Linked DNA regions of Homo sapiens: regions 1 and 2 are each linked to region 3. The links come from fine-mapping of genetic effects on gene expression. A gene starts in region 3. Each other region holds a variant in brackets. All regions are shown on one strand. Distances are from middle to middle.

Region 1 (11,020 bases), 39 kb before region 3:
CTCCTCTCTACTAAAAATACAAAAATTAGCTGCACGTGGTGGCACATGCCTGTAATCCCAGCTACTCAGGAGGCTGAGGCAGGAGAATCACTTGAACCCAGGAGGCAGAGGTTGCAGTGAGCTGGGATCGCACCATTGCACTCCAGCCTGGACAACAAAGCGAGACTGTCTCAAAAAAAAAAAATTAGATTGATTTTCCTCTCAGTGGAAGTTTCTTCTTTATACTTTTCTTTATTTTCTCATTTCTCTTGTAATAAGCATGTATCAGTTTTATAATTTAAAAAAAAAGGGTTTTTTCATCCATTTTTCCCATGGTTTTTTTTTTTTAATTTTTATATTTTATCATTGCTGAGCTTACAGGGTTACTCCTCCACTGACATTTAAGGCAGATTTACATTAGCAGAATGCAGGGAGGTGCCCCTCCACCTGAGTTGGAGACCCGGGCATCACCTATCATTTACCCTGAACAAATATCACCTTTCTAAACTACTCTTCCTCTGCAAAAAGTCTTTGCAAACTGTAAAGCTCTGAGCCAACATAATTATTATATCATTGTTTACTGCTTATTATAATATTATAATATAATATCATTTAAGACCCCGGGGTTGGTAATCCCAGCATTTCCAATTCATTCGAAATGAAATAATCTCTAGACCCTCAGAATTTAAAATGTGGTCCGCAGACCAGAACCAGCAGCTTTGGCATCACCTGGGGCTTGTTAGCAATGCAGAATTGCAGGCTCGCCCCAAACTTACTGATTCAGAGCCTGCATTTTAACAAGATCTGCAGGTGATTCATAGGCTCGGAGAAGTTGGAGAAGCTCCGGTCTAGGTACGCCTGCCGAGATTCTCAGGAGTGCAGAAAGTGGGAAACCGTCAGCAGTACCAGCCATCACCAGCACTGACACCCAGGATGCCATTAGGAAGAGGTAAGTGATCTTGATTATGCCAATTTCACAGTCACATTCAGCAACACTGGTTTTAGTTAAAGAGCCAACAATGAGAAGAACCCAGCCAGGCCCCGGCTGCAGGACATTACCCCAGAGTTAGAAGACAGCCTCATGGCCACTTGGTCTGGCTTGTTCTGGGCAGCTGCATCTCCATAATGACCGTTTAGGTAACTAATTTAAAAAAAAAAAAAGCAGTTTGAATGTTAGAATCAGTTCTTGAGCTACCTGGGAGCTCCACTATTTGGAATCACTTGGCATCACCCCTGGGATGGTGGGAGCGAGCAACCTAAGGCAGAGAGTGCTATGGGCCTCATGCGGCCACTTGACCTTCACCTCTCCCCGCGTCCCCCAGCCCCAGCTGTCCCGTCCCTCAGATCTCTGCCCAGAGGGTTGCAGAGGCTGGCCAGGCCCTGCTGGTGGGGCAGGTGAGGAGCCAGGCTACCAGGCTTTGTAACTCGTGGTCCAAGACTGCTTTTCCTGTGGGAGCCTCATGGGCCTTCCTGGAGGCTGCATGAGGAAGGGGCCTCTTTCTGTGTCCTGTGTCTGCTGGGGCTCCAGGGCTAGGACTCACGTCTGCGGGGCCAGCTCACAGAGCTCCTCGTTGGGGGCCTCCTGCGGCCCTCCTTGGGGTGTCCCTGTTACCTCACTCCCACCTGAGCCTCGAGGCCCAGAAGGGTGGCCGGGGTGCTCCTTGGGAATCTGGGGGAGCCACACAGAAAGACTTGAATTAGAGCCACAGTCCCACTGGAGGTGACTCAAAATCAGTTCAGCATCCCTACAGCACCCCTAAGGCACCATAACATCCTGCCTGGCGTCCCCCCACCCCTGTCTCCCCCAGCTCTTTACCTAGCTGTCTTCTCATCCTCCAAGACTCAGTCCAAATCTCACCTTCTCTGAAAAACCTTCTCCCTTAGTAATTCAAACCTTCTGCATTTAGTTACTTTTGGTCATATCCCATTACTTAATAGTCATGATAGCTAACACCCAGGAGTAATGTACTCACTGTGAGCCAGGCCCTATTTTCAGTACGTTACTTATATTAACTCATTTAAACATCATAACAGCCCTGTGAGGCAAATATTATTATCTGCATTTTACAGAAGAGAGAACTGAGGCACAGAGAGGTTGCATAACTTTCCTAAGATCACAAAACTAATAAGTGACAGAGCCAGTATGTGAACCCAGGTAGTCTGGCTTCAGAGTCACGCAGAATGTATTATTATTTTCTGCACTGTGCTTTTTAACATTTCATAATTATATGTTAATTTAATTTTTTTTTTTTTTTGAGATGGAGTCTTGCCCTGTCACCCAGACTGGAGTGCAATGGCGCAATCTCGGCTCACTGCAACCTCTGCCTCCCGGGTTCAAGCGATTCTCCTGCCTCAGCCTCCCAAGTAGCTGGGATTACAGGCGCCCGCCACCACGCCCGGCTAATTTTTTGTATCTTTAGTAGAAACGGGGTTTCACCATGTTGGCCAGGCTGGTCTCGAACTCCTGACCTCGTGATCCGCCTGCCTCAGCCTCCCAAAGTGCTGGAATTACAGGCGTGAGCCACCGCACCTGGCTTAATTTGTTAAGTATATGTCTCTCTTACAGAAATGTAAGCATCTTGAGGGCAGGTGATTTGTTTGTTGTTCATGTTTTATCCCCAATACCTAGAAAAGTGCTAGCCTATAGCAATACATACTGCTGAGTGAATGAAGGATGCCAGCACTAGACTCTTTCCAGAACCACTTACCACAAAGTTATTTAGAGAGTTCTCATCATTTCACAACAGTAGCTGTAAACTTGGGACCAAGTAAAGAAGAGCAGATCCAGACCCCAGGGAGCTGCCAGGTAGAGGGCAGGGCCAACCCTGAGGTGGCCTCACAAAGACTTGTGACTCCTGCAGGTCCAAGACTAGCAGGGCAGCCGCTGTGAGCCTGGAAACTGCTTGGGTGCCTTGAGATGGGCTGTTACATCCACGGTGGCTCAGGGCTTCCTCTATGAAGCATCGACTCTCCTGGGCTTTCAGCTGGACATTCAGGATTCAAAGATGAGTGCAGAGTCACAGAGACAAACGAGACCCAGTGCTGCGGGGACACAGAGGCCGGGGCCAAGAATTCCTCCAGGTGCGGGGGATTGGGGGGCTTGGGGGTGAGGAGGGTGGCTGACTAGGGATGCATAAATGACCTGACGCTAGAGCTGGGCCTTGAATGAGTGAGATTTTGCCAGGCAAGTAAGTGCTTTGAGGAGGCAAACACTTCTTCGGAAGGGCTAACCTTGACATAATCTTTGTCACTTTGTCCTTCGCTTTGACAAAATCCTCATTCAAGTTTGAATATCAGCCCCAGGCTGTGTCTTCAAATACTGTATGAAACTAAAGAGTCAATTTAAGGTATTTATTTAAATGATTCTGTTTCTCAGAATTTTGATTTTAGTCTGAATGTTCTGATAGTTGAGGCTACAAAGGCAAAAAGTATAGAAAGACAGTGGTGGTTAATTTGAATTCCCAATCTTGCATAAGTAGAAATCCAAAAGAATTTAACTTGAGAGAAGGAAAATGCAGAAGTGGATTCATGGGAAATAATTATTTCACTGAGTGTGCTATTCTTTATTTTCAGGTGGCTCATGCCTGTAATCCCAACACTTTGGAAGGCCAAGCGGGCGGATCACTTGAGGTCAGGAGTTTGAGACCAGCCTGGCCAACATGGTGAAACCCCATCTCTACCAAAAATATAAAAAATTAGCCAGGCAGTGGTGGCATGCACCTGTAATCTCAGCTGCTTGGGAGGCTGAGGGAGGAGAATCACTTGAGCCCGGGAGACAAAGGTTGCAGTGAGCTGAGATCGTGCTACCACACTCCAGCCTGGTGAGTACAAAACTATGAAGAAAAAAAATTATTTCTTCCAGGCATGATCTACAAAAATTTTCTTATTAATTTGGAAGAAATAGCTCTTCGGTGGTTTAATGGATTTAAACAGCATTGTTACATCCTAAACTATAAAGATGTTTCAAAAATTAACACTTGAAATAGCTTCTAATCTTTAAAAGCTGGTTCCATTTAAAATAATATAATTCATGGGACTTTGGAAAGTTAAATTTTCATGAGATATTAAAAATGGAATTCAGTGAATCCATGAATTAGGAGTCTATAAATGCAAAAACACCATTTTTCCTGGCACAAAATTAGACTGTACATTGCTGTATTACCTCATTTGAGAGTGAAGAGAAGGTGGAGGCCAAGTCATCCAGGGTAACTGGAGAACTCACAGGAAGGGAAGGAGCTGAAGTATATTTGCTTTCATCCATTTTCTCTTTAACATCTTCAAGCAGCATCTCCAATTTGAAGATTTCACCTTCCACTTTTCTAAGTAAACATAAACACACAGGCATCTTCTGGGCTATGTGGTTGGCATTCTAATTAATAATGACAGTTCTTGAATACAGCATTGATTTATATTATTAATGTGGCCTGTCTTCTGTCACAAAGGATAATGGGAGCCCGCATGACTGTTCATAGTTTCTCTGACAGCCTGGGCTCTGATCTTCACCTGCTGTCCATTAGCTGCGTATCCTTGTATAAATCACTTAGTATTTCTGGGCCTCCAATGTCTCACTTATAACCTGGGATAACAATATTGTACCTTACTTATCTGGATTTGATGATTTTGAGATCCCTTACAAGGGATTCTAAGAACTGTGATTCTATGGAATTACTTGTTATGCTAATTTAAAAAGAGGAAGAATATTAGATATCTGAATAATTTAATTAACAAGTTCTAATCCATATGAATATATGTGTATGTGTATATAAATATATATTTTACCCAACAAAGAGAATCCATTTTCTTCAAATCCATTACATTTATAAAAATTTACCTCGTAACAGTCCACAAAGGAAAATTTCAAGAAAATCCAAAATATTAAAAATTATACTACCTACATTCTCTTATCACTAGACATTAACAACAAAAAGATAGCCCCCCCCCCAAAAAAAACCCTGTTTAATTAGAAATTTTAATACCTAAATAGCTTTGGATTAAGTAGGAAATAAAA[A/C]TGAATGTTAGGCATAACTTACAAGTCAATGACAAATGAGAGAATAACATAGGAAAACCAATGTAATGCAGTTAAAGCAGTACTCTGAGGAAAACTTCTAGTCTTAAATGCATTATTGGGGGAAAAAATCAAAAATCAATCAACTATTTAAAATAGGAAGATAGAAAAGGGAATATAAAATAAACCACAGAAAAGGATTCATAAAATTACTAGAAATAAATGAGACTTAAAAGAATTTGATCAATAAGATAAAACATGTTTTCTTCCAAAATATCTATGAAACAAACCACTGGAAGTCTGAAAAACAAATAACATTAAGAATGAGAAAGGAAAAATAGGAAAAATTTTAAATCAAAAGGCATTGAAAAATCCATATCAACACCATTTAAAATTTAGGTGAACTGGGCAAGTTTCTAGAATAATATAAATTATTAAAATTCACTTTTAAAAAAGTAGAAAATATGAAAAGACCAACAACCAGAGAAAAATGGAAAGTGTTAAAAATCTACTCCATGAAAGGCATGAAGAGTGGGATAATGGGTGAGTTCTACCAAGCCTTTTAAAAAAAATTTCAATGTCTCTAATATGTTAATTTTTATGTATTACATAGTTTAAAATGTAATTTATAACAGTTTGAAAGCATATATTTCAACATATATTTTTAAAGGAGAAATTTAAATCAAGTATATGCAGACCCCGAAGCACGTGTATAGAACCTTGGAGTTCACTAAACATAATTCTACCAAGACTTTTAAGCAACAGATAAGTCCTATATTATTAGACTCTTCCAGAACATGAAAAGAAAAGGGGCCCGGCGCGGTAGTTCACGCCTGTAATCCCAGCACTTTGGAAGGCCGAGGTGGGTGGATCACGAGGTCAGGAGATCAAGACCATACTGGCTAACATGGTGAAACCCCGTCTCTACTAAAAATACAGAAAACTTGGCGGATGCTTGTAGTCTCAGCTACTTGGGAGGCTGAGGCAGGAGAATGGCGTGAAGCCGGGAGGCGGAGCTTGCAGCGAGCCAAGATCGCGCCACTGCACTCCAGCCTGGAGGAGCGAGACTCCGTCTCAATAAAAAAAAAAAGAAAAGGGAAAATTGCCCAACTCATTCTGTGGTTCAACGTTAGTATATTTATTAACATATTCCACTAAATTAATAGATTAAAGGAGAAAAACTAGATTTCTAAATCCCATTTGATTAAACATTTTCTTGAATTAAATAACAACAAAAGCCCTAATTCTAGAAAGCTAGGAATAGAAGAAAACTCTCTTGATGAAGCTTATCTATTTGAATCATACTTAGGAGAGTTCTCATTATTATTAGTAACATGACAAGAATGCTGTCTTTTATGGCTCACGCTGGTAATCCTAACACTTTGGGAGACCACAGTGTGGGAGTATCACTTGAACCCAGGAGTTCGAGACTAGCCTGGAAAACATAGGGAGACCATGTCTCTACAAAAAAAATTTTTTTTAATTAGCTGGGAGTGGTGGCATGCACCTGTAGTCCCTGCTACTCAGGAGGCTGAGGTGGGAGGATCCCAGAGTCCAGGAGTTTGAGGTTGCAATGAGCTATGATTGTGCCACTGCATTCCAGCCTGGACAAGAGTGAGACTTTGTCTGAAAAAAAAAAAAATGCTGTCTTTCACTAATATTAATTATCCAATATTGTTCTGGAAAACCTAGCAAATGAAATAAAGAAAAAGAAATGAGATAGATAAGAATTGGAGAGAAAAGAAAGTACAATACAAATATTCTGGAGTAAAAAGCTTATTAATATTTTCAGATGCTATGGATTGTCATACTTAAAAATTAAGACAATCAACTAAAAAATCAACAAAACACTAAGAAGAGAATTGCATAAGGTAGCCCAGTACAAGTTAAATATACAATATGGAAATACTTCCTATGACATCAATTAGAGAAAACATCTGTCGACAATACTCAGAACACTATAAAATAGCTAGTAATAAACCTAACAAAAAAATGTGTAAAATCTGCATGAAGAAAACGTGATGGGAATACTTACTACAAAGATTTCAGTTCTTCCCAATCTAACCTATAAATTCAATACATTCCTAAGCAAAATCCTCATGAAATTTTATTAAGAACCTTGGTGAGCTGATTATAAAGTTTATTAGTAACATGAGTGTATAAGAATAGCTATAAGAAAATTTTAAAAAGAAGAAACATTTCTAAATATACACTAACCTATAATAGTTTATGTGGATAATGTAGAAATAGACACATAGATCAATGGGATGGAATAGAAACAGTTCTGTATACATGTGGAGGTTTTGTATCTGATATAAGGGGCTTTTTCAACCAGTGGGGAAAGGCTGCCCTATTCAATAAGTGGTGGGACAAAGATCTAAGCATGAAAAAAACAAAGTGATAATTGAATAAAATATAGGAAACTATGTTGGGATCTTGCAGGCAGAAGAGAATGAAACAGGGGACAAGGAGAGACTGAAAGTTTAAAAGAAATGAGCCCGGGTACGGTGGCTCATGCCTGTAATCCCAGCACTTTGGGAGGCCAAGGTGGGCAGATCACTTTAGGTCAGGAGTTCAAGACCAGCCTGGCCAACCCGGTGAAACCCCGTCTTTACTAAAAATATGAAAAAATTAGTCAGGCATGGTGGCATGCACCTTTAATCCCAGCTATTCTGGAGGCTAAGGCAGGAGAATCGCTTGAACCTGGGAGGTGGAGGTTGCAGTGAGCCGAGATCGCGCCACTGCACTCCAGCCTGGGCAACAGAGCAAGACTCCATCTCAAATAATAATAATAGTAATAATAAAAATAATAATAATAAAAGAAATAAAATGATGGAGCAAGGCCTCAAGGAAGTAGAAAGGGATGGGTTCAAGGACCATGGCTAGAGAGGTTGGAGAGCAGACTAAGGAAGGGAGAGGAGGTGAAAACATGGGGATTTGGAGATAGAAGAGACATTTTTGAGGGAAGTTGTGATCTTTTCTTTAAAGCAGAACATAAGATTTTATGCTGAGACTCTCAGGGAGAAGTGGCTGATGAAGGTAGAACCCCATTTCTTGAATTCTTGGCTTCTGAAGTTAATATGTGAAAGAAGCAAATTACTATTGGACTACATTCTGACAAGCAAGATGCATGAAATCCAAGCAAATATTTTTGCACATTACCTTGTAAAGGTAATAATGAGAAGGCTTTAATAAGAGCACAGCAGGTGATGTAAACAAAGGACTAGTCAATGAATTTGCAGAATTCTTGCCCCTCCAGAAAGCCCTCTGCATTAGCCTTTGGACTCAACACTTATAAGGTTCTCGACATATCAAGAACCCAAGGGTTGTATGGGATTCTGTTCCTTGTCACATTATGCCCATTTGAGAACAAGGGGACTATTCTGGAGCTGATCAGTCTTTGCCTGTCCTGAGGTGACTTCAGCCGAGATTTGGGAAAGTCTGGGTCCCTCCCTTGCCCCAGTGTTGAAAGCTTCTCCCATATATGGAATGTAATTGCAGTTGAAGCTCTTTTTATTTATACTCATGCCAGGCACAGTGTGGCTGTAACTAGGATATAAATAAGACATTGAATAACTTTGGTCTTAATGTGCACAGAAACCTGTCTTTAAAATGACTGCCCAAGCAGAAGATTCCTTGGAAAATAAATATCCTTACTCTATTAATTTTAAATAGCAGAAGCATGCAGAGTTCTTTCTTCCTCTCCCCCCAAAAAAAGCCTTTGGGAAAAAAATCAATATTAAAACCTCATCCTTACTGTCTAATTACTCAGTGCTGAAATAAAGGTAGACAGAGGTTCCATTAATTTTGGAAAAGTAAAACCATACCTTGGGGAAAAAAATGCCACAGAACGCTAGGGCTGAAATGTAAACCATTAAAAAATTTGGCAACAACAATTCCATATTAAAATGCTATGAATAGAAAGGGCTAAACTCACAAATATTAAGCCTACTAAATAGTTTCTTTTAATTTATACCAGGAAATTATAGGGAAAGAATCCTCTCCTTGAGTCCTGGAATACAGCTTAAAATTATCTGGAATGGAGAAAGGAGAATACAGTGCCATAAAAACTACCAGTTAGAAACTTCAGTTTGGAGTGTGTGTTCAAGATTCTAATGTGAATTAACTCAGAAATCATTTAACTTTAAGCTTTCACGCTTTTCCTTTATCAGGATTTGTAGGTCCCTCACCCTGACACCAATTAACTTTACAATGACCCCCTCCTGCCCAGTGTGCCTTGGAATTATCAGTGAATGGGAAAGAAAAGGGGAAAGAGAGGGACAGAAGAGAGAACCAGGCAAGGACAATAAAGGCAGGTGTGGGGAGAGATAGATAAGAGAGGAAAAAGCTGAGAGGGAGAGGAGAGGAGGAACTTGAGAAGAGGGCCCTCTGTGGTTATCATGTGAGCCTTTCTAGGGTTTTCTTAGGCTCCTCTGGGTCTCCAAACCAATTATAATGATATTCAACAAATTGCAAAATTTTGGTACAATGCCTCTGCCCCAGGAAGCATTTGTTCATTTTGGGTGTTCCATCTGAGTCAATGTCCAGCACAGCACCTTACACTCAACAGGTCCTCCATGCTGTCTGTGGTATTAGGTGACACTTTGTTCATTGGTGACACAGTTTCTGCTGACCCTAGACCAGTGGCTCTCCAAGCACTAAGCCAGCAGCCACATCAGAATCCCACCTGAAGGAGATCACCTTTGACCCTTCCACCTTACACAGTTGGTTTAAATCTGACCTTTCTGGATCAAAGTCACCAACGATTGTTGATTCGTGCTTGTGGACTTGCTGCTGCAAAGTCAGATGCTTGTCCTTGGTGGCCAGAAAGTTCTGCTCCAGCAGTTCAAGGTGTCCCTGCAGTTTCTCCAGGACCTGCAGCGGTGAAGTCACTGGAATCATTCACATGCAAGCCTGTGTGTGTAATTGTTTTCCCAAAAACACAAAGCAGGTGTACCCTACAGTAGTGTCAAAACAAAGCTGCCATCCTTCTCCCAGCAGCATAAATTGTTTTGTCTCAGAGTCTGACATCTAAACTACAGACAACCCAAGGGTCATCTCAACATTCACAAACCCTCACAGCACACAGCTCAAAAGTACAATTACTTCTGATTTCTCTCTCAGAACCCACTCAGAGGCCTCTGGCCTTCCTTAGTGGGACATTCATAATCCTGTATATTTGCAGAATGGTTTTTAGCTTACAAAGCATTTTTCCATTCCTCATCTTATTTAATCAACACATCAATGTTGTAAATGTAGTAAAGTATATTTTATTATCCCACTTTTACAAAGGAGGAAATTGGAGCTCTAGCAATATGTCTGAAGGCACATAGATCTTAAAAAGGAACTGTAGTTACATGGCCTGGGTTTCAGTCTGTGGGGAGTTGGAGGATGAGATGGGGAAGGAACAGCAGGAAGATTTAGCCAAAGCTGTGAATGGGTCTTCCAGACATCACTACGTGCAGCCTCAAGCAGATGAATGTTTAAACTGTGCGGGTTAGGGGCATGTTGAAGATGTATGGAGGCTTCAGTTCCACATCCCCAGTCACTAAACATTCCCTGAGCACTTTCTATTTCTGGCCCTGGGCCAGAAGTGTGAGATTAAAAAATTGCATCAGGCACAGTTCCTGGTCTTAGAGATGTTATTCCATTGAGAAAAGAGACTGTGGCTTAGAGTACTTAGCCAAAGGCCAGGCACAGTGGCTCATGCCTATAATCCCAGCACTTTGGGAGGCCGAAGTGGGCAGATCATTTTAGGTCATTAGTTCAAGACCGGCCTGACCAACATGGTGAAACCCCATCTCTATTAAAAATACAAAAATTATCCGGGCATGGTGGTGCGTGCCTGTAATCCCAGCTACCTGGGAGGTTGAGGCAGGAAAATCACTTGAGCCCAGGAGGCAGAGGTTGCAGTGAGCCAAGATTGCACCACTGCACTCCAGCCTGGGCAACAGAGCGAGACTCCATCTCTCTCTCTCTCTCTCCATATATATATATATATATATACCAAAGCCAGAGCTCTGGAGTGCATATCTA
Region 2 (11,020 bases), 32 kb after region 3:
GAACTAACAGCACGACTTAATCTCTCAGACCTTCAAATGGTTCTTGGTCTGAGCTACAGCACAAATAACTCCATAATGTCTGAAAATACTGAAATTGATAGCAGTTTGAATGGTAAGTAATAGGACTTTTAAAACCCAATTTTTTTATCCTCAATATTTAGATTAAAGTTATTTATCACAAATTTGGCATATTCAGAGAGAATATATAACATGGGAAGTTCAACTTATTACACTTTTTTGCTGTACACAGCTCTGTTTGTAAATATATATTACAATTATATATTTTGTATATAATATATATATAATTATAATATATAATTTATAAGTGTAAAACAATATTTTATAGTTTTTACCATGAACTTAGGAATGGTGATGGTATTGTTCTTTTCTTTTGTAAAAATACATTTAAATTCTCTATCTCTAAGCTCATTCAAAAATTTGTAAATGTGAAGGTGCCAAAATTTTAAAATGTTATTGTTTATCCTTTTTATCTCATATCGTTTTACGTATCTGTTTTCTGTTTAGTTCTTTTTCCCCCATTTCATTTCCAAGGTGAATTTTCTTAGGACTTTTTTAAATTCAGAAAATCTAAGATACTCTCTTTATTTTTCTTTCTTTTTTTTTGGTGGCAAAACCTATCTTTAGGACACCTTCCTTAGGTGCCGATTTGTTTGACATTTCTATAGCGAGGAAATTTGCTATAATGTCTCTTTTTGAGTGAAAGAAAATCTACTTTTAAAGAAATAAAAGGGATAAGATTAGGATCACATTTTTAAATTTCATCAGTATGTGATTCTATATGAGATCATTTTCCTAAGCTTGAGAAATTCTCAGTCTAAAAAAAACTACTGACAAATATTTTGAATTTTAAAGTCAGTGATAAATCTACCTTTACTTTTTCCAATTTTTTTCTTTAAACTCAGGAAAAGAAATTAGTGGCTAGTCATCTGATTTAGATTTTCAAAGAACATTTAGTGAAAAGTTCTGAAGTGTGAACCGTATAATAATTTGTGACTGCGTGCTTTGTGGTTGAATGATGGGCTAAGACGTTTTTCTGTGCTGAACTTTCAAATAGGTTATGCCGTTAAGAGCTCTCATCTTTAAAAAGCAAAAACAAACAGTCGCTTGTCTTCATAGACCCTTCTAGCTGTAGACCTGTTCCTTTGTTCGCTCTTATAACAAAACCTGAAAAGACACTAATATTCATTGTCTTTACTTCCTTGCCTCCCTTTCTCTCTTCAACCCATTCCCGTTGGGCTTTGCCCTCACCATGTCTCTGAGACCTCCATTTTACCAAATATATCATTCAGTTTTCACATGTCAGCTTACTTGATTTTTCTCAGCAATATTTCCTATAGCCAATCATTCCCTTCTGAGAAAACTTTCTTCATTTGGCCTCCAGGATTACTCTGCTTTTCTGGTTTGCCACTCTCGTCTTTATTCTCTTCTCTCCTCTTCTTCATCTTTCCTCTACGTTTGTAGTGCTCAGGGTTCAGTTCTTGGACCTCTTCTTCCTACCTTCTTTCCCTCCCTATTTTCCATCTCTCTCTCCTTCCTTCTTACTGATTTTATCCTTTTTCCTTCTATTCTGTGCTTTAAGTCAGTGCTTCCAATAGAACTTTTCTGTGATGATAAAAACGTTTTACATCTGCCATCCAATGTAAAAGCCACTAGCTACATGTGGCTGTTGATCACTAGAAATGTGGCTACTACAAGAGGGAGTGAATTTTTAATATTACTTAACTTTGGTTAATTAAAATGTAGAGAGCCGCATGTGGCTACTGGCTATTGGACAGCACAGCTCTAGATAATCTCATCCAGTTACTTGGCTTTTATATTGTCTATATACTGATTATTTTCAGATTTATATTTCCAGCCAAAATTTCTCTCATGAGTTTGAGACTCATTTGTTTAAAATTTTCCATTGTCATGCCATATCTAATTGGCATCTAAAACTTAGCATGTCCATAATGTTTTCTCCTAAACATGTTCTTCCTGTACCCCACCCTATCTCAGGAAATAGTATCACCATTCACTCAACTAATCAGGCCAAAAAACTAGGGGTCATACTTGTTCCCTTTCTACTTTTATTTATTTATTTTATTTTATTTTATTTTTAAAGACAGAATCTCACTCTGTTGCCCGAGCTGGTCTCGAACTCTTGTCCTCAAGAGATCTTCCCACCTCAGCTTCTCAAGTAGCTGGCCTTGTTCCCTTTCTTTCACTCACTTCTACATCAAACCTATCAGAAACCTGCCTTCAAAATATATCCCTAATCTCTCCTACAGTGTACTCTGCAACAATCTTAGTATAAGCTACCGACAGCTCCCAGCAGAGTCCTAGCCTACCAATGATTTCTCTTACTTCGATTCTGCATCTCTCACACTTACTTTTCCACACAGGAGCCAGAGTGCTTTTTTTTTTTTTTTTTTCTAAATTAAAAAAATATTTTGGCCAGGCACAGTGGCTCACGCCTGTAATCCCCAACACTTCAGGAGGCTGAGGCAGGTGGATCACCTGAGGTCAGGAGTTCGAGACCAGCCTGGCCAACATGGCAAAACCCCATCTCTACTAAAAATACAAAAATTAGCCAGGCACAGGGGCACAGACCTGTAGTCCCAGCTACTCAGGAGGCTGAGGCAGGAGAATCGCTTGAACCTGGGAGGAGGGTTTTGAGATGGAATCTCGCTCTGTCGCCCAGGCTGGAGTGCAGTGACGGAACTATAGGCACGACCTCCTAGGCTGAAGTGATCCTGCCACCTCAGCCTTTCAAAGTGCTGGGATTACAGGCATGAACCATCATGCCTGGCCTCAGAGTGCTCCTTTAGAATATACGTCGTTCCTCTGTTCAAAACCCTTCAGTTAGTTCCCATCACACCTAGAACGGAATCCTCAGTCCTCACCATGGTTGAAAGGCCCTATGTAATCTGAACCTATCTCTTCAGCCTCTTTTCCTGCCACTCCACCTCTTGCTCACTCTGGCTGTATGAAGACAGGTGTTTTTTGGTCTCTTTTGTTCATTGCCATCTCCCCAGTGTGAGGAGAAAGGATTTGTAAGAAAACTTGTCTATTTCTGGTGTTGGCTCAAGGTAGAAAAAAGGAGCCTTCGCTAAAAATCTTAATTCATGAATTCATAAGCCTCCCTACATACTGGTTTGGAATTTGATTTATACCATCTGCACAGTCTAAGAAACCCTAATCCATTAAAGCACTTTTGGGTTAGAGGTGTTCCTAGAGACTTAGCAGAAGTAAGACCAAATAGTTTCTGGGGGAAAGGCATCCTTGATTCCAGGTCATAAGCGTTTCACAACAAAAAAATTACCAAATATGTAAAGAAACAAGCCAAGATAGTAAGGAAAAAAATAACAAAATTAGGTCATCAAGTTCTTCAGATGTTAGAATTATCAGATATAGAAAATAAAATGACTGTGGTTGAACGTTTACAGAAGTAACAAGGAAATGAAAACAAGAGAATAACAAAAATGTTAGGTAGACTGAAAAAAAAAGCTAACATTTATTGAGTGCTTATGATATGCCAGGCACTGATTTAAGTGCTTTACATGTTTTAACTCATTTAATTGTAACAATTCTAGTAGTTAAGTTTCTGTTATCCTTAATTTACAGGTGGGGAAATGGAGGCAAGAGAGGTTAGGTAAATTTCCCAGGGTTACCTGTGTAGTAAGTGGTAGAGATGGGAGTTAAGCTTAGTCACTCTGGCTCCAGAATCCGTCTTATGTGATAGTTATGTCTTAATGTGATGTTAACACACCTCAATAATTGATAAAAATCAGTCAGGAGTCAGACATCAGTAATAAAGTTGAGATTTGACCAACACAATTAATAGGCTTCATCTAATGCAATATTTTGCAAACTATGTGTCTGACCCATTCATGAGTTATAAAATGAGTCTTATGAGTTGCAGTTAGCATTAAAAATACACATACAGGGGCCGGGCGCCATGGCTCACGCCTGTAATTCCAGCACTTTGGGAGGCCAAGGCGAGCGGATCATGAGGTCAGGAGATCGAGACCATCCTGGCTAACGTGGTGAAACCCCGTCTCCACTAAAAATACAAAAAATTAGCCAGGCGTGGTGGCAGGCGCCTGTAGTCGCAGCTACTCGGGAGGCTGAGGCAGGAGAATGGCGTGAACCTGGGAGGCGGAGCTTGCAGTGAGCCGAGATTGCTCCACTGCACTCCAGCCTGGGCAACAGAGCGAGACTCTGTCTCAAAAACAAAAACAAACAAAAAAAACACAGGAGGCCAGGCGCGGTGGCTCACACCTGTAATCCCAGCACTTTGGGAAGCCGAGGCACGTGGATCACGAGGTCAGGAGATCGAGACCATCTTGGCTAACACGGTGAAACCGTGTCTCTACTAAAAAATTAGCTGGGCGTGGTGGCGGGCACCTGTAGTCCCAGCTACTCGGGAGGCTGAGGCAGAAGAATGGCGTGAACCTGGGGGGCGGAGCTTGCAGTGAGCCGAGATCGCGCCACTGCACTCCAGCCGACAGAGAGAGACTCCGTCTCAAAACACACGTGCGCGCACACACACACAGCCGACAGCCAGACTCCATCTCAAAACACAAACACACACACGCCGGGGCAGTGGCTCATGCCTGTAATCCCAGCTCTTGGGAGGATCACTTGAGCCCAGGAGTTTAGACCGACTTGGGCACACAGGGAGACCGCCATCTCTCCAAAAAATTTTTTAATTATCCGTGCATGGTGGCATGAGCCTGTCATCCCAGCTACTCGGGAAGCTGAGGTGGGAGGATCACTTAAGCCCAGGAGTTTAGACCGACCTGGGCACACAGGGAGACCGCCATCTCTCCAAAAAATTTTTTTAATTAGCCATGCATGGTAGCATGAGCCTGTGATCCCAGCTACTCGGGAAGCTGAGGTGGGAGGATCACTTGAGCCCAGGAAGTCGAAGCTGCAGTAAGCCATGATCATGCTGTTGCACTCCAGCCTGGGCAATAGAGAAAAACCAAAAAACTACACAC[G/A]TATGTGTATGTATGTATATAAAACTGTTGTGTGAAGATTTTGTTGTATGTTTGTGTATGTTCTAGGTATATATGTGTATTTTTTAATATGGGGTCACACCTTAAAAGTGAAAACCACTGCTTTAATGGAAATATATTGACCTAACTGGTCAATTTCCATTATTTTTAAGTATTCATGAAACATTTACAGAAAACTGACAATAAAGCAAATCTCAACAAATTTAAAAGGATTTGTATCACATCTGTATCACACATGCTCTGAGCACGGTGCATTTAATTTAGAAATTAATAAGATAATATATAAAACATTAATCTGAAAACATAACATTTCTCAGTAACTTACAGGTTGAGAAAGAAATCTTAAAGTTAGAAAGTAACTTAGGACTGAATTATAAAAATATTGTTTCAATTTTGTGGCATGTGACTTACATTGGTACTTAGAGCAAAATTTATGTTGTATTTAAAAAGGAAAAAGCTGGCCAGGCGCGGTGGCTCACGCCTGTAATCCTAGCACTTTGGGAGGCCCAGGCGAGTGGATCACAAGGTCAAGAGATCAAGACCATCCTGGCCAACATGGTGAAACCCTGTCTCTACTAAAAATACAAAAATTAGCTGGGCGTGGTGGCATGCACCTGTAGTCCCAGTTACTCAGGAGACTGACACGGGAGAATTGCTTAAACCCAGGAGGCGGAGGCTGCAGTGAGCCGAGATCACACCACTGCACTCCAGCCTGGCGACAGAGCAAGACGCCATCTCCAAAAAAAAAAAAAAAAAAAAAAAAAGGAAAAAGGCTGAAAGCTTAATACCATCTAGCTTAAAAAGTAAAACAAACAAACAAAAAAAAACACTGAAAGAAGGCAAAAATTAAAAAGCAGAATTTAATAAAATTAAAACAGTGTTTTCTTTAAGTCAAAATTTGGTTCCAAATTGTTTAGTTTAATTTTGACTAAGTCTACAGAAAGAGGGCATAATAAATATGCAGAGATTAAAAAGAGATTCTGAATAACGTTATGACAAAATATTTGAAAATCTAGGAGAAATGGGCAATTTCTGGAAAAACAAGTTACCAAAACTGTTCCAATGGTAAAATGTAATGTGAATGGCATGCTAATGGCTAAAATTATAAAGAAATTCGAGCAGTAATTTAAAATCTTCCCACTAGGAAAATACCTGGCCTAGATGATTGTACAAGTGAGGTAAACCAGCCACTTAAGAAAACTAATTATAATACCTTACACAAAAATTTTATAGGCAACTGAATAAGTGGACATACTTTTATCAATCTTTCTGAGAACCATAACCTTGATATCCAAACTAGACAAGAACAATACAAGAAAAGTAAATTACCGGCCAGCCTTACTTGTGAACATAAGATATAAAAATCTTTACAAAATATTAGCAAAGCAAATCCAGTAATGTATTTTAAAACAAACGGGGAGCCGGGCGCAGTGGCTCACCCCTGTAATCCCAGCACTTTGGGAGGCTGAGGCGGGCGGATCATGAGGTCAGGAGTTCGAGACCAGCCTGACCAACGTGGTGAAACCCCGTCTCTACCAAAAATACAAAAATTAGCCAGGGGTGGTGGTGTGTGCCTGGAATCCCAGCTACTCAGGAGGCTGAGGCAGGAGAATCACTTGAACCTAGGAGGCAGAGGTTGCAGTGAGCCGAGATAGCACCACTGCACTCCAGCCTGGGCGACAGAGAGAGACTCCGTCTCAAAAAAAAAAAAAATTCAAGTGGATTCAACATTAGAAAATCAATTAATGTAATTCACTAATGAACATAGTAAAGAGAAAATCACCCAAATATCCAAATCTATTAAATCTATTTCATATAGAACTAATGAAATAGTTCTATTTCATTAGAACTATTAAATGAAAATATTCCATTTATAAGACACAGTAGCAGATTGGAGAAAGAATAAAATCCAACTACACACTACTTGCAAGAGAAATATCTAATATAAGGATATAATAAACCTGAAAGTAAAAGAATAGAAGATTCATCATGCAAAAACTAACCAAAAGACAGTCAGTATAGCTATGTTAATAGATAAAATGTACTTTAAGGCAAAGGGTCTTACTAGAAATGAAGAAGGTCGGCTGAGTGTGGTAGGTCACGCCTGTAATCCCAGCACTTTGGGATGCCGAGGCTGGTGGATCACTTGAGATCAGAAGTTCAAGATCAGCCTGGCCAACATGGTGAGACCCCGTCTCTACTAAAAATACAGACATTAGCTGGGGGTGGTGCAGGGCCCTGTAATCCCATCTACTCAGGAGGCTGAGGTGGAAGAATGTCTTGAACCCAGGAGGTGGAGGTTGCAGTGAGCCGAGATCACGCCACTGCACTCTAGCCTGGGCAACACAGCGAAACTCCATCTCAGAAAAACAAAAACACAAGCAAACAAACAAAAACCAAAGTAAATGAAGAAGGTCACTTTACGGTGGTACTTACCAGTGATTAACAGTTCAATTCACCAGGAAGATGAATGCATTAAATGTGTCTGGGCTTAATAGGTGTTTATAACAAGGCCTCAACGTACATAAAGCAAAATTGACCAAAGAAATAGGAAAATCTACAATCATAACGGGAAATTTTAATACATATCTCTTAGTAATTGATGGGTGATAAACCATACTCAAGTGGGAAGACAATTTTTTTTTTTTTTTTTTTTTTTTAAAGACAGGCTCTTACTCTGTCACCAGGCGGAACTGCAGTGGAGTCATCTCAGCTTACTGCAGCCTCTACCTCCCAGGCTCAAGCAATCTGCCCACCTCAGCCTCCTGAGTAGCTGGGACTATAAGGCACATGCCACCATGTCTGGCTGATTTTTATATTTTTTTGCAGATATGGGGTTTTGCCATGTTGCCCAGGCTAGTCTCGAACTTATGAGTTCAAGGGATCTGCCCACCTCAGTCTCCCAAAGTGCTGGGATTACAGGCATGCACCACCGTGCCCGGCTGACAAAATTTTATAAAAGATTTCAGTTCTTCTCAAATTGATAAAAATTAAGTGCACTGCCAAACACATCACAATTATTTTGTGGAACTTCATGAAGTTATTCATAAGTTTATATGAAACAAAAAAGTTCTGAGAAATACCAAAACATTCCTAAGAATATGAAAAGTGCTTTCTTTACAGATATAAGTAATAAGACAGTGTGCTGTTGGCATAAAGACAAATAGACCAGTGGAATCGAGTAGAGAGCCTATATTCCTCACATATATGGAAAATAATCTCACATAAAAATGAATTATTGATGGATTAAGGATTTCAATGTGAAAGACAGATTTAGAGCAGTAATAGTGATGATGCAGGAGAGGTGCAGTGGCTCACACCTGTAATCCCAGCACTTTGGGAGGTTGAGGCAGGAGGATCGCTTGCATCCAGCAGTCAAGACCAGCCTGGGCAACATAGGACCCCTGTCTGTATAAAAAAAAAAAAAAAAAATGGACATGGTGTTGCATGCCTATAGCCCCAGCTACTTGGTAGGCTGAGGTGGGAGGATCGCTTTGAGCCCAAGAGGTCACCTAAGCTGCAGTGAGCTGTGATTGCGCCACTGCACTCCAGCCTGGGCAACAGAGCAAGACCTCTTCTCAAAAAAAGAGATCGGGGGCCGGCCAGGCATGGTGGCTCACACAAGTAATCCCAACACTTTGGGAGTTGAGGTGGGCAGATCACTTGAGGTCAGGAGTTCGAGACCAGCCTGGCCAACATGGTGAAACCCTGTCTCTACTTTAAAAAAAAAAAAGGGTGGGGGGGACACGGGGCGGGGGGCAAAAGTGATGAACAGTACACAAATAGCCCATAAATATATGAGAAGATATTTAACTTCATCTCATCAGCAAACATCACAGTGGAGTACTGGTAGAAACTTATGAGGTAAACAAAAATTACTACCAGTATTCAAATGATGCAGGGTAATGGAAACTCTTGTGTGGTATTGATGGGATAGAAATTGGTATACCCTGAAGTACAATCCAGCAACATTCTGGTGAAGTTAAAGATGCGCCAACTGGATGATCCAGCTGTTTCACTCCTGTTGTGCTCCCAGTTATATACTGCTGATACCCACCAAACTAGAAGAAATGCTTGTTCATGTACACTGAGAGACGTTTCCAAGAATATCTGTAGTGTGCTTATCATAGCAAAAAAATTGGAAGCAACCCAAATATCTGTCACTAATAAAATGGATGATTTCCTAGTCCACTCTACAGTCTGTTATTTTTGAGACTGTGTGGATAGTATAAACCAGTTATTATAAAAAAGCCTTTGCCAAAAACAGCAATGAAAATGAATTAAGGTATACATGGCAACTTGGATGAATCTCACAAACATAAGGTTTCTCAAAGATGGTTGCAGAATACATACAGTATGATACCATTTATAAATGTTTCAAAACCAATATAGCTCTAAAACCAATATAGTTTCAAAAGCAATATAGCACATGCTGTATTGCTAAGAAATACATACATTTGTAATGAAAATGCATAAAAGCGCAGGGAAGACAAGGGAAATTATGAGGGGAGTTATACAAGGGGAGTTTAATGTGTTTGTAATGTTTCTTTTTTTAAGCTGGGTATTAGGTATTTCTTATGCCTTTTAAAATATTGCCTAATATTTTAAAACATTGAATGGATATGGAAATTCTCTGTATTTAATAACTTTATTGAAAAAAGTTTAAGGACTCGTTTACTTGTTTTCTGACTGGCAGTAAGTCTGTCATCTAATGAGATCTTAAAATAGAAAGGGGTAACCTAGAAAAGAGTAACAGCATAGTAGTGGGGATGCTATTTTGATTCTTTTCACGCAATTGAAGGCCTACAGCCTTTTCCTTCTGTTATAAGGAATAAACTGCTCTACAGATTGTTATTTTTGAAACTGTGTGGATAGTATAAAACCAGTTGTTATAAAATGCCTTTTTCAAATTAAGGGGTAATGTAGTAACCAGTGTTAGTTTCCAACCAAAATGTAACTTCCTTACATCAAAGCATTTTAGAGGGGAATGTATATTCTATTTTTGTGTAGCTGGTATAGAAAATTATTATTCTTGGAAGAATACATATTTGTACAGGTTTTCTCGTTTCATATGGGTTTGTGTATCAGATTTTAGAACTGAATAATGTAATGATGCTGAACTTGTACTCTTAAGGGCTCCCTGGTTTATTTGAATTAATTTTTTTTAAACAAAGGTGTACGCCCCAAGTTGGGACGCCGGCATAGTATGGAAAATATGGAACTTATGAAGTTAACACCAGAAAAGGTGGGTGGCAGGTTTTATGTTTTAAATTTCATGAACTATTATAAAATGTTTTAGTAATTTTTAATTTAATGAAATAATTTAAATAAGGCTTGCCCTATATAGGTATCACTTTAAAATTTGCCTGTAAAAAAAAAGTCAGAAAAAGTATAGTGCAAAAAGAATGAGTACCGTATGCTGCCATCTGTTTAAGAAAAATACATGCATATATTTCCTTTGTAGATTCCTAAAACATTCTGGAATAAGATATAAGAAACGGGCTAACAATGATTTCTTCTGGGAAGAGGACTGAGTGTCTGGGTTAGGCTAGAAATACTTTATATACCAGTTTGAACTGTTTGAATCATTTACTATGCAAATGTATTACTTTTAATTAATAGAAGATCAGGAAGATCAAAAGGACAAGCTTTTTTCCCCAACTACATAGCAACATTATTGCCAAGATAAATGAAATTTATGATCAAGAGGAGAGTTGTTTTTCTGGCTGCATTCTTGAAAAGCATTTTTTTTTAACAAGTACTTTGTATTGAAGATACATCTTCCCTAGGCTTTTTCTTGCAGGAGAGGGGTGCACAGTAAAAGGGAAGGGACTTCATAATTAGAAACAGGTTATTGAAGAAAACATCAAGGCTACTTTTTTCCGTTTCCTTTGAACTGAATAATTACATTGTCAAAATAGGCTCTCGGCCGGGCACGGTGGCTCGCGCCTGTAATCCCAGCACTTTGGGAGGCCGAGGTGGGTGGATCACGAGGTCAG
Region 3 (11,020 bases):
GGCTGTTTCCCTGCATTTTGAAGTCTCCTTCCCATTCTCTTTTTCTTAGCTATTCCTTTGGAAAGCTCTTACTCACTCACCTACTCCACACTCTCATTTTTTCCTTCTTTTATTCTTATTTTATATATATACATACACCTATATATGTGTATATATGTACATACATATATAGATACATATGTATGTGTGTATATATATGTACACACTTTTTTTTTTTTTGAGACAAGGCCTTGCTCTGTTGCCCAGGCTGGAGTGCAGTGGCGCAAGCACAGCTCACTGCAGCATTGACCTCCTGGGCTCAAGTGATCCTCCCACCTCAGCCTCCCAAGCAGCTGGGACCACAGGTACATGACACCACACCAGGCTAATTTTTATTTTTTTGTAAAAACAGGGTATCACTATGTTGCCCAGGCTGGTCTCCAACTCCTGGGCTCATGCGATCCTCCCACCTCAGCCTCCTGAAGTGCTGGGATCAAAGGCATCAGCCACCGCACCGGATCTCCTTTTATTCTAAAAGGTGGAGTTATCAAGTCCACATTCTTGCTGAGGAAACTACACAACCAATCTTCTTTCTTTTAGTCAAGGGAGCACTGTTACTCTGATAGATTTTGTTGGGGGAGGGAAGCAACAAATGTTATTTACTTGGTTATTCAAGTTTGCCTTGATTCAGTGTGGTCGTTTATAATTCAGGGAAGTCTAGCCACCCTGGTTTCATCTTAAAGCAAAGTTTGGCCTATCCTAACAACCCCACATGTTGTGAGGCTATGTACATTATCAGTGCTCTCCCCCTACTCCAACACACTGGAAAATGGTCAAGGAAGCCTGTCAGCAGTGTGATCACCAGGGGGTTTCATCTAGTACTGTGGAAGTGATGTGGTAAAAACTTCATTGCTGTGTTCCCAGCATCCAGCAAAGTGCCTGGCATAAAATAGGCATTTAAACATAAATGTTATGGAGCAGATCACAGTATGTTTTTAAACAGATCCCTTCCTCTCTCTCTCTCTCTCTGTCTTTCTCTCTCTCTGATCCAGGATCCCCAGCAAGACTAATGTGCCTTTTTGTTTTTCATGACATTGACATTTATAAAGAGTCTGGGCTAGTTGCAGAATGTCTCAAATTCTGGATTTGTTCCAGAGTGCTTTTTTAAAAATATAAATCAGGACCAGGCATGGTGGCTGACACCTGTAATCCCAGAACTTTGGGAGGCCGAGGCAGGCGGATCACCTGATGTCAGGAGTTCAAGACCAGCCTGACCAACATGGTGAAACCCTGTCTACTAAAAATACAAAATTAGCTGAGTATGGTGGCACATGCCTGTAGTCCCAGCTAATCGGGTGGCTGAGGCAGGAGAATTGCTTGAACCCTGGAGGTAGAGATTGCAGTGAGCTGAGATTGCACCATTGCACTCCAGCCTGGGCAACAAGAGCAAAACTCCATCTCAAAAAAAAAAAAAGATATATATATATATATATATATATATATATACGTATATATATATACATATATATATATACGTATTTTATATATATATATATATATATATATATATATAAATCAGATGAAGTTATTCCCATATTTAAAACCTTCCACAGGATTCCTATAATATTTAGAAAATAAAGTCCAAACTCACTACCCTGGCTTACAAAGGTCTACATTGCCTTTTGTATGTTTTCTTCTTTCTCACTGCAGCCACAGTGGCCTTCCTCCGGTTTCTCAAGTCCACAAAGCTCTCAAATCCTGCAAAATCCTCGCAGGACTTTGCACTGGCTGTTGCCTTTTCCTAATGTGCTTTTCCCTGAAGTTTGCTTGAAGGCTGGCTCCTTCTCATAATTCAAATCCCAGTTTGAATGCCGTTTTCTCAGAGAGGACTTCCTTATCTTAGCCCCCAATCTGAAGTAAAGTAGTCACTTACTCACTCTCACATCACCCTTCTTGTAACTCTCTGCATGGTACCTATCATAACCTGATATTTTTCTTTTTCTTTTTTCTTTCTTGAAGCAGGGTCTGGCTCTGTCACCCAGGCTAGAGTGCAGTGGCTGGATCATAGCTCCCTGGAGACTTGAACTCTTGGGCCTCAGCCTCAGCCTCCCGAGTAGCTGAGACTACAGGTGTGTGCCACCACACCAGGCTAATAAAAAAAATTATTTTTGTAGAGATAGGGTCTCACTATGTTGCCCAGGCTGGTCTCAAACTCCTGGCCTCAAGCAGCCGTCCCACCTTAGCTTCCCAAAGTGCTGCAATTACAGGTGTGAGCACACCCAGTCCTGATATTTCTTGTTGTTTATTTTTGTTGAGCTCCAAGAGATCAGGGGCTGTGTTCTGTTGTGCTCACTACTATATTCCCTGTACCTAGAACAGCTCCTGACACACAGCAGAAGTTTAATACATACTTGCTGAATACTGTAATGAATAAGCTGAGAGCTGAGGATGAAAAGAAGCCAACCATTTAAAGAGCTTGGGGAAAATCTAGGCAGGGAGGAGGTCCTGAGAGAACCTTGAGGCTTAGTCCATTCTAGGGCATGAAGAATGCCCTGTGTACTTGGAGGAAAGTGAGGCAGCAGGAGGAAAAAATAGGAGAGAAGAGAGAAATTGGCAGGGGCAAGATGGCTTAAGGCCTTTTCCCCCACAGGAAGTTTGGATTTTATTTTAAATTAAATGGGAAATCACTAAAGGTTTACGAGTACGAGAGTGACATAATCTGACTTATGCCATTTAAAAGATATTTTTCAATTTGAGTGATTAGGAAGATGGAAGTAACTAATATCAGAGATAGAAATCACATATGTAAGAGAAGATTTGCAGGGGGTAAATAATTCTGGACATGTTGAATGTAATGTTGTACTTCTGGCTGGGTGAGGGGGCTCATGCCTATAATCTCAGCACTTTGGGAGGCCAAGGCAGGAGGATCCTTTGAGCCCAGGAGTTCAAGACCAGCCTGGGCAACATAGTGAGACCTTTTCTCTACTGAAAAAATAAAAATAGCCAGACATAGTGTCAAGCTCCTGTGGTCCCAGCTACTGGGGTGTAGGGGAGGGGTGAGATCGGAGGATCACTTGGCCCTGGGAGGTTGAGGCTGCTGTGCAGTGATCTCCAGCCTGGGTGACAGAGGGAGGTCCTGTCTCTCTCTCTATATATATAAAATTTCCTTTGTGGCTTTCACAGTATCCATACTTTAAAAGAATTTATAATTAAGAAGGAATTAATACCTACCTCTGAAACAGTACAGCCAACCAATTCCATTGTTATTTACAAGAACCTGATATTAAAGATGGTTGTAACGATAATAGGTATCAAGTATGGAGCAGTTTCTATGTGTCAGGCCCTATGTCAACCACTTAACAACCTTACCTCACAGAAGCATCATAGCAACCCTTATTAGAAGAGGCTTTATTATGTTTTACAGGTGGGGAAACTAAGACTAAAGAAGATAACTCATTCAAGGTCAATCAGCAAGTAAGTAGCAGAATTGGAACTCAAACCCAGGTCTAGTTTGATGATAAAGCTGTTCCTTTAAGCAATTTGCCATAACATGCACCTAATGGGAAATGTTGCTTGGATCACTGGTTATGGCCATCATTCACGGAGATACTGAACCCGGAGTTTTCTTTAACATAGCCTTTACCCTGTAGAAACATTTAAACTTCATTTCAGAAGAGAAATATCTATTTGAAAAATAATCTAAGTAAATTCATCAGATGCTTTACCCCAGAGAGACTCTGGTCTTGGTATTTTGGTTTTTGTTGTTGTTTGAGACGGAGTCTCGCTCTGTCGCCGAGGCTGGAGTGCAGTGGCGCGATCTCGGCTCACTGCAACCTCCGCCTCCTGGGTTCAAGCAATTCTCCTGCCTCAGCCTCCCGAATAGCTGGGATTGCAGGCGCCCACCACCAGGCACGGCTAATTTTTGTATTTTTAGTAGAGACGGGGTTTCACCATTTTGACCAGGCTGGTCTCCAACTCAGGTGATCCCCCCGCCTCGGCCTCCCAAAGTTGCTGGTATTACAGATGTGAACCACCGCGCCCGGCCGGTATTTTGTGAAGAACAAACTATAAGGTGACTACTATTTTGGGGTCACCTTGACATGGAGGAGAGGTGAATGGAAATAAAACTTATTCTTCCCAGTGTCTTTAGAATGTAGGCGCTGAAACTGAGTGAAACTGAGTAAAACTGCCACCCAATTTTCCTGGGAACCAGCGATTCTGTAGTCAACAGAAGTTTGCTTTTCCAACAGCTGGAAACGCCAGGGTTGGGCACAGCCTCAAGAACTGAGGCTGCCTTGTTCAGACTTTCACACGGTCCCTCTGTTCCTTCCACAGAGGCCTCTTTTTCTTCTATATCCCGCATCTGCCGCTTGGGACACTCATTCTGTAGCGCAGCACCAAGTCTTCCAAAAAGGCGGCGCTGGTTTTGCGCTCCTTTTTTAAAGGGATCTAGGCCAGCCTCTATCTGAACTCTGTACGATGTTTTTTGTTTGTTTGTTTTGTTTTGTTTTTGAGATGGAATTTCGCTCTTGTTGCCCAGGCTGGAGTGCAATGGTGCGATCTCCACTCACGGCAACCTCCGCCTCCCGGATTCAAGCGATTCTCCTGCCTCAGCCTCCTGAGTAGCTGGGATTAAAGGCATGCGCCACCACTCCCAGCTAATTTTGTATTTTTAGTAGAGACGGGGTTTCTCCATGTTGGTCAGGCTGGTCTCGAACTCCCGACCTCAGGTGATCCGCCCGCCTCGGCCTCCCAAAGTGCTGGGATTATAGCCGTCCGTCACAGCGCCCGGCCAACTCTAGACAATATTTATTGCTCTACTTTTTAGTGTCTGAAGAAGAAAGAAGAGGACAGGAAAGAAACTTCAGTCTGAGGGTTGAGGACACGTCCCGGAGCAGAGGAGGACCAAGCTCCCAAGCCCCCTGTCACCTTGACACGCAGACGGTTCCCCAGGACTGCGAAGAGGGGGGCAACCAGCGCCCCGCCCCGCCCCGCTGCGCCGCCCGCCATTGGCCGGTCCGAAAGACGCGGGGCGTTGTCGGTTTGAATGAGAGCGCCTGGAGCCGGGGCGCAGGCGCAGAGGAGGGCGGTGTTGAGACCGGCGGAGCGGCGGGACCCCTAGGTGGCGGAGGGACGCTCCGGGAAAGCGAGGGGCGCTACGAGCTCTGGCCCACGTGACCTGCCGGGGGCGGGAGCAGGGGGCGCGCCGGCCTCCTGCGGTGCCCCTGCCTTGGGGAGGGGCCGTGACCACCCGTCTGTCGCCCGAGGCGGCCGCCGCTGCACCTTCACCGCGTACCCGGGACCCGCCCGCCCGCGGGAGGTGAGCGCTTCCGCGACGCGGGTTCTGAGGCGTTTGAGGGGCTCTCGGAGGGAGGTGACAGGGAGGGGTGCGTGTGCGTGCGTGTGGGGCTTCTGTGTCCAGAGGTCTGGGGGTGACGTCCTTTGTTTTGGGCAGGAGGCGGGCTGGGGGCTTGCGGGACCTGTGGGCGCTGCGGGGACGCGGCGTCGATGCTCAAGAAACCAGAAACTCGGCTTGAGGAGTTGCTGCTTTTTTGTCGGAAGGTCTTCAAATGAGAGTAAAGCGTTAAGAGCCTCACTCCTGAGTCTTTTTTTTTTTTTAAGATAAAAACTATACTAGAGTCCAGCGACTTCTTACCACTCTGAATGTGAGTAACAAATTGTGAATCAAAGCCCGAATCCCCGTGGAATTCATTCCGAGGCTGATTGCAATCACTTGGAGTCGGGCGCGTCCTACCTAAACCAGGCAGTTTATGGCAAATACCTGCCTTGACCGTGCTTAAATTAGTGAACTTTTGGGCACCAACTGGTCGATTTACCATAGAAATTGGTAGTTGCTGCAAAAAGAGTAAGTAAACATAAAACGTTAAGAAAACTCTTTCCTGAAATCTATAGAATACCTTCGAATAAAAAAAAATCTGTAATTTCCTTGTTTTAATAGTAACCAGTTAGAGCATTTGAACTAGTAGCATTTGAACTCTGTTAAAGAAAACGAGTAAGGATGGAAATTTTATTGGCCTTAATGCATAATTTAACCACACCGTAGAATTAAACGAAGTAGGTTCTTGGCTTTCCTTTCTATCGGGTTTGCATTGGAGCGTTCGTGGGGTGTGTTGGAAGTCAGCAGGACCAACAGAGCTGAGTTTTCAAGCTGCCACTTTAGAAGGGTGTACCGAAGATTTCTGGCCTGATAATAGCCGGTGTGATTGCTTCTGATAAATACCACTTTTGATTGGGTTCTCACTATTCAGGAGCAGCTTTAGTTGATTGTTTAGAAGTGAATAAACAACATTAAAAAGGGTAGATCACTGTTGGTTGACATGGTGTGTGTAAGGAGAGGGGGGCCTCAGGGATTAGGGGTGGTCTCACACCTACTTCTCTTTACAACTACCACGGAGTCGTTTTCGCAAGCTATTTCCCAGGCTATTACTTATAATTTAAGTATTGGAGCGGTTTCAAAGTAAAAAGTTGTGTGATGTTGTTGTAGAGGCATGTCTCCAAAATCCTCTCTGGCCAGATAAGCAGTTTAATTGTATTTTCTTACATTCTTAAATCAGATATTCGGTGTTACAAACATATTTTAATATAGATCTGAGACTTGCTTACTAGACTAATTAAAACAGTGATAAGATATAGTAGTTTTAAAAATGACCTTTTCATAAACATAAAATATTTCTAAGATCTATCTTTAGAAATTTGTAATTAGTTCTCTGGAATTTTAAAATGGAAAATCTGACATAGATTTAGGTTATTCTAAATTTATTTGAATATATATTAAATATGTCTATTTTATAATAACAGTTACTGTTATTACTACAGCACTATGTTGAGTACTTTTGTTATGTATCAGAGCCAGGTGCTGGGTCAGGTGCTTTATAAATCATGTCTGTAATTATCACAGCACATTTTAGGTAAGTGTCATTATGCCCACACCAACTGAGAGTTTAGCGTAAGATCATATAACTAATAAGTCACTGTGCCGAGATTCAAATCATGGCCTGATCCCAAAGCACATGCTGTATTGCTTCTGTGTGTCTGTTTAAATCTCTGCTGTGTCTCTGGATTCCATTTGTAGGGACAAGTTCTACTTTAAAGATGCCTTTAGGTGCTGTGTTTTGTTGTAGCTTCGCAGAAATATTTCAATCTTTCTGTTGGAACTATCTTGCTTCATTATTTTATAAATCATCTTATAAATCACATTATATTTTCAATATCTTCTTAATCATCTTTATACAAAACATAAGTGAAGAGTAAGACTTTTCTGAGTTTCTTACATAAATATGAATAGAATCTTTACTGTGGAGAAGAAATGTATTACAGTCCGGTTTTCTCACTATTGTAGGATTCTTTGGCCTCGTCATAATTCCTGTCTTCTTCCCAGGGAAGAAATTAAAGTTTGTTGGGCCTCTCTTATGTGCAAAGCAATGTCGTTGGTGTTGTGAGATGACAAGAAAATGCTTCCTATTCAGTAGTTGTTTCTGGAGTTTTTGTAGTATTTTTCTTTTCTCCCCATTCCTGCCTTATATGTTGCTGCTGGTTTATCTTCCTAGCAGAGATCCAACTTGGCTATTCCTTTGTGGGGAAAAAATACCAGCAAGGTTCCCCATTGTGTAAATAAAAGGCTGAGGCCGGGTACGGTGGCTCACGCCTGTAATCCCAGCACTTTGGGAGGCCGAGGTGGGCGGATCACGAGGTCAGGAGTTCAACACCAGCCTGACCAACGTGGTGAAACCCCGTCTGTACTAAAAATACAATAGTTAGCCCAGTGTGGTGGCACACGCCTGTAATCCAAGCTACTCAGGAGGCTGAGGCAGGGAGGCGGAGGTTGCAGTGAGCCGAGATCGCGCCACTGCACTCCAGCCCGGGTGACAGATCAAGACTCCATCTCAAAAAAAAAGGGGGGGCTGAATATGAATATATGCTTCTGCCACATGTTCAGAGTCCCTCACAGTTTGTTACTGTTCTACCTTCTCAGCCTTCTCTTTCACTACTCTGAATACTGTGTGCTTATCCTGGAACACATTCTGTGCATTTCTACCCTCCCTTTTTCTTGAGCCATTCTTTTCCCTTGACTGGAATGCCTTTCCTTCATTTGGCTAATAAGATCTACCCATCCTTCAAGGTGCTGTACAAAATTCCTTGCTTCCAAAAAGTTTTCCCTGGTCCTTTTCAGTTAGAATTATTATTCCCATATTATCACAAAACATTATTGAATAGAAACATTTATTTTCCCACAGAATGGTGATAACTTTTGGGAAGAGAAGACAAAATCATGTTTAATATATTTTCCTATGGAGAATTCTAAACTCAAACTCTCTAGGGACCCTTTCTAAGCATTTATAATATTTCTGCATTTGGGATTTATTTCTGCTTTAAAATGTGTTTGGGTCAGGTGCAGTGGCTCACACCTGTAATCCCAGCACTTTGAGGGGCCCAGGTGGGCGGATCACTTGAGACCAGGAGTCGAGACCAGCCTGCCCAACATGGCGAAACCCTGTCTCTGATAAAAATACAAAAATTAGCCAGGCGTGGTGCTGGGCACCTGTGGGAGGCTGAGAGAGGAGAATCACTTGAACCCAGGACGTGGAGGTTACAGTGAGCCAAGATGGCGCCACTGCACTCCAGCCTGGGCGACAGAGTGAGACTCCGTCTCAAAAAAAAAAAAAACAATGCTTAGTGGAAAGGACCATTTCTTTTCTATTTCACTATTGAGCTTTAAAATTATGTATATGTATTAATTGATTGAAGCTGATGACTGGACCATCGTTGGTAATAATAAATGGCTATGCTTACCAAAAAGGTTTATATATAGTTCAGATGATCTAACCTGGTGGCAAGAAAAGTAAATTATATTTATTGTCTGATGAATGTTACCAGTTTGTGTAGATCCATGGATGGAAGAAACAGACCAAAAACAAACAAAGAAACAGACCAAAAGTTATTGGCATTTAAGTGGCAGTCAGGATCAGATAGTTTAGATAAATTCGAAGAAGCACAAAATGTAACCTGGTTTGCAAACTTTTTACTGCCAGTGGAGTAAAGCAGGGCTAGGATTTCTTTGATAAAGAGCTAGCCTTTCTTGTCTGCTCTGATTGCATACCTTGGACAGTGCCTGGAAGTCCACCTAGCTGTCTAAAGGGAGTCTGTCTATTTTGACTTCCTAATCAGATAATTAAATGTGAGGCAGTTAGAGTTATGTACTAGTTGATCTTTCTATATGTCTCTGTCAATTCCCGGGATATGGAAAAAATGATTGCCTTTTCTTTATGGTTAGATGCCGTGATCTAGCAATTTTGTTAATTTTGAGGTTTTTGGAGCATTGCTTGGAAGATGCTATTAAGAGACAGATTTGTTCCTTGCAGATTGTTAGTTGTAAATAGTAGTGGAGGTTGGAGGTTGAACTTGATGACTTCTCAATATCCTTTCAAACCTACAAATTATTTTCCAGTTCTTCGTCCTGTGATTAAATTTTCTTATCCTAATGATCAAATTTGTAATTTAATATTTGTTGCAAATTTTACTAGTCTTACACTATATACACACACATTGTATCTAGGAAGTAGGTTTGTTAACTCCATGTAATGAGGAACATGAGTGAACACATTATTGCTAAATTGGCTAGAGAGTTCTTAAAACATGAATCATGAATCAAGAATTGCTTGTTTGTTCAGTGAATATTTTTTTGTGTGAAGTGCTACCTAATTGTTATGGAGATTGTAATGTAAGAGGCACTTTTAAAGATATTCTTCCCTTGAGAATAGTAAGACTATATTATAAATTGCTCTTATTGAAATAGTGAATAGCATTCTGTCTTCTTGCTTATTTTAATGGTCTTAGAAATGGTTCTTTCTACATGCAGTTTTCATCAAGTAAAATATTTTGCAACTTTATTTATATTCATTTACTTATTCGTTAATTTGTGAAACATGTAAATGCTACATGTTTACATCTTAAGGAGTATGAAATTAACATTTTATAATTGCAAAATTTAGAATTTCATTAAGAACTCATGGATGAGAACAATATTTTGTTTTATTTTTTTAGAGACAGGGTCTCACTCTGTGGCCCAGACTGGAGTGCAGTGGTGCAATCATCGATTACTATAACCTCCAACTCCTGGGCTCAAGCAATCCTCCTGCCTCATCCTCCCAAGTAGCTGGGGCTATAGTCACAGGCCACCACACCTGGCTGATTTTTCAATTTTTTGTAGAAACGGGGTCTTGTACGTTGCCTGGGCTGGTCTTGAACTGTTGGTCTCAAGTGATCCTTCCACCTTGGTCTCCCAAAGCACTGGGATTACAGATGTCAGCCACCGGGCCTACCTAAGAAAAATATTTAAATTTAATATCAGTATCTGTGGGGAATTGGTTCCAGGACCCCCTGAGGATACCAAAATCCATGGATGCTCAAGTTCCTTATATAACATGGTATAGTATTTGCATATAACCTATACGCATCTTCCCACAAACTTTTAATCCTCTCTAGATTATTTATGATACCTAATACGATGTAAATGCTATGTAAATAGTTGTTATATGGTATTGTTTAGGGAACAATGCCAAGGAAAAAAGTCTACATGTTCAGTAGAGACACAACTTTTCATTTTCTTTCCTGAATATTTTTGATACGCGGTTGGTTGAATCCACTATGCAGAACCCACAGATCTGGAGGACCTACTATAATTTAATTTAATTCTAAGGTAAGTTAATTCTAATACCTCTCTTTCTGCTCCATTTTATAAATAACAGCCCAAACCTCATAGTGGATAACGGGAGATAATATCATTGCCAGTTTAGCTGTTTGTGTAATCTAGACGCCTTTGGAGCTATTGCAATGAGTATCCACACTAATTCCCTTTATTAATTTTTTTATTAAGGAAAAAAGAGGCACAGTGGAATTCTGAACAAAAGGAAAAGAGATTTGATGTGTTGATAGCTGCTATTTGATGTGTTGATAGCTGCTACCTTTTTGTTCTTTCTTAAAATACTGCTCCCTAGCCCGTGCTGTGGCATGCACCTGTAGT

Alleles and levels. Alleles are on the strand shown, and positions count from the first base shown. SD is a standard deviation of normalised expression in the study named. Not every link is listed here.
In carriers of allele C in region 1, the expression in sigmoid colon of the gene that starts at base 5,056 in region 3 tends to be lower than with A alone (moderate effect, 0.40 SD a copy in GTEx).

What was found. PIP is the estimated chance that this variant, and not a neighbour inherited with it, causes the effect. A credible set is the group of variants that fine-mapping cannot tell apart.
Region 1: its variant is the best candidate, but not a certain one, in a credible set for the expression of GPSM2 in sigmoid colon (GTEx, PIP 0.74).
Region 2: its variant is the best candidate, but not a certain one, in a credible set for the expression of GPSM2 in whole blood (INTERVAL, PIP 0.66).

The regions. Positions count from the first base shown.
Region 1 is chr1:108,833,409-108,844,428 of GRCh38, forward strand. It overlaps AKNAD1 (AKNA domain containing 1), which reads right to left. Exons shown (of 16, transcript NM_152763.5): 6 at 9,726-9,859; 7 at 4,142-4,298; 8 at 1,521-1,648; 9 at 1,039-1,120. It overlaps LOC105378891 (a long non-coding RNA gene), which reads left to right. Exons shown (of 5, transcript XR_947687.3): 3 at 782-928; 4 at 2,841-3,060; 5 at 3,553-3,595. Among named protein-coding and RNA genes, the nearest start is that of AKNAD1, 18 kb to the right of the region's middle. The variant A/C (reference allele first, on the strand shown) is at 4,988.
Region 2 is chr1:108,904,143-108,915,162 of GRCh38, forward strand. GPSM2 (G protein signaling modulator 2) reads left to right here. Exons shown (of 15, transcript NM_013296.5): 10 at 1-112; 11 at 10,196-10,266. Among named protein-coding and RNA genes, the nearest start is that of GPSM2, 33 kb to the left of the region's middle. The variant G/A (reference allele first, on the strand shown) is at 5,004.
Region 3 is chr1:108,871,930-108,882,949 of GRCh38, forward strand. It overlaps GPSM2 (G protein signaling modulator 2), which reads left to right and starts at 5,056. Exons shown (of 15, transcript NM_013296.5): 1 at 5,056-5,299. RefSeq lists an enhancer at 4,712-4,811 and silencers at 4,892-5,291, 5,382-5,451.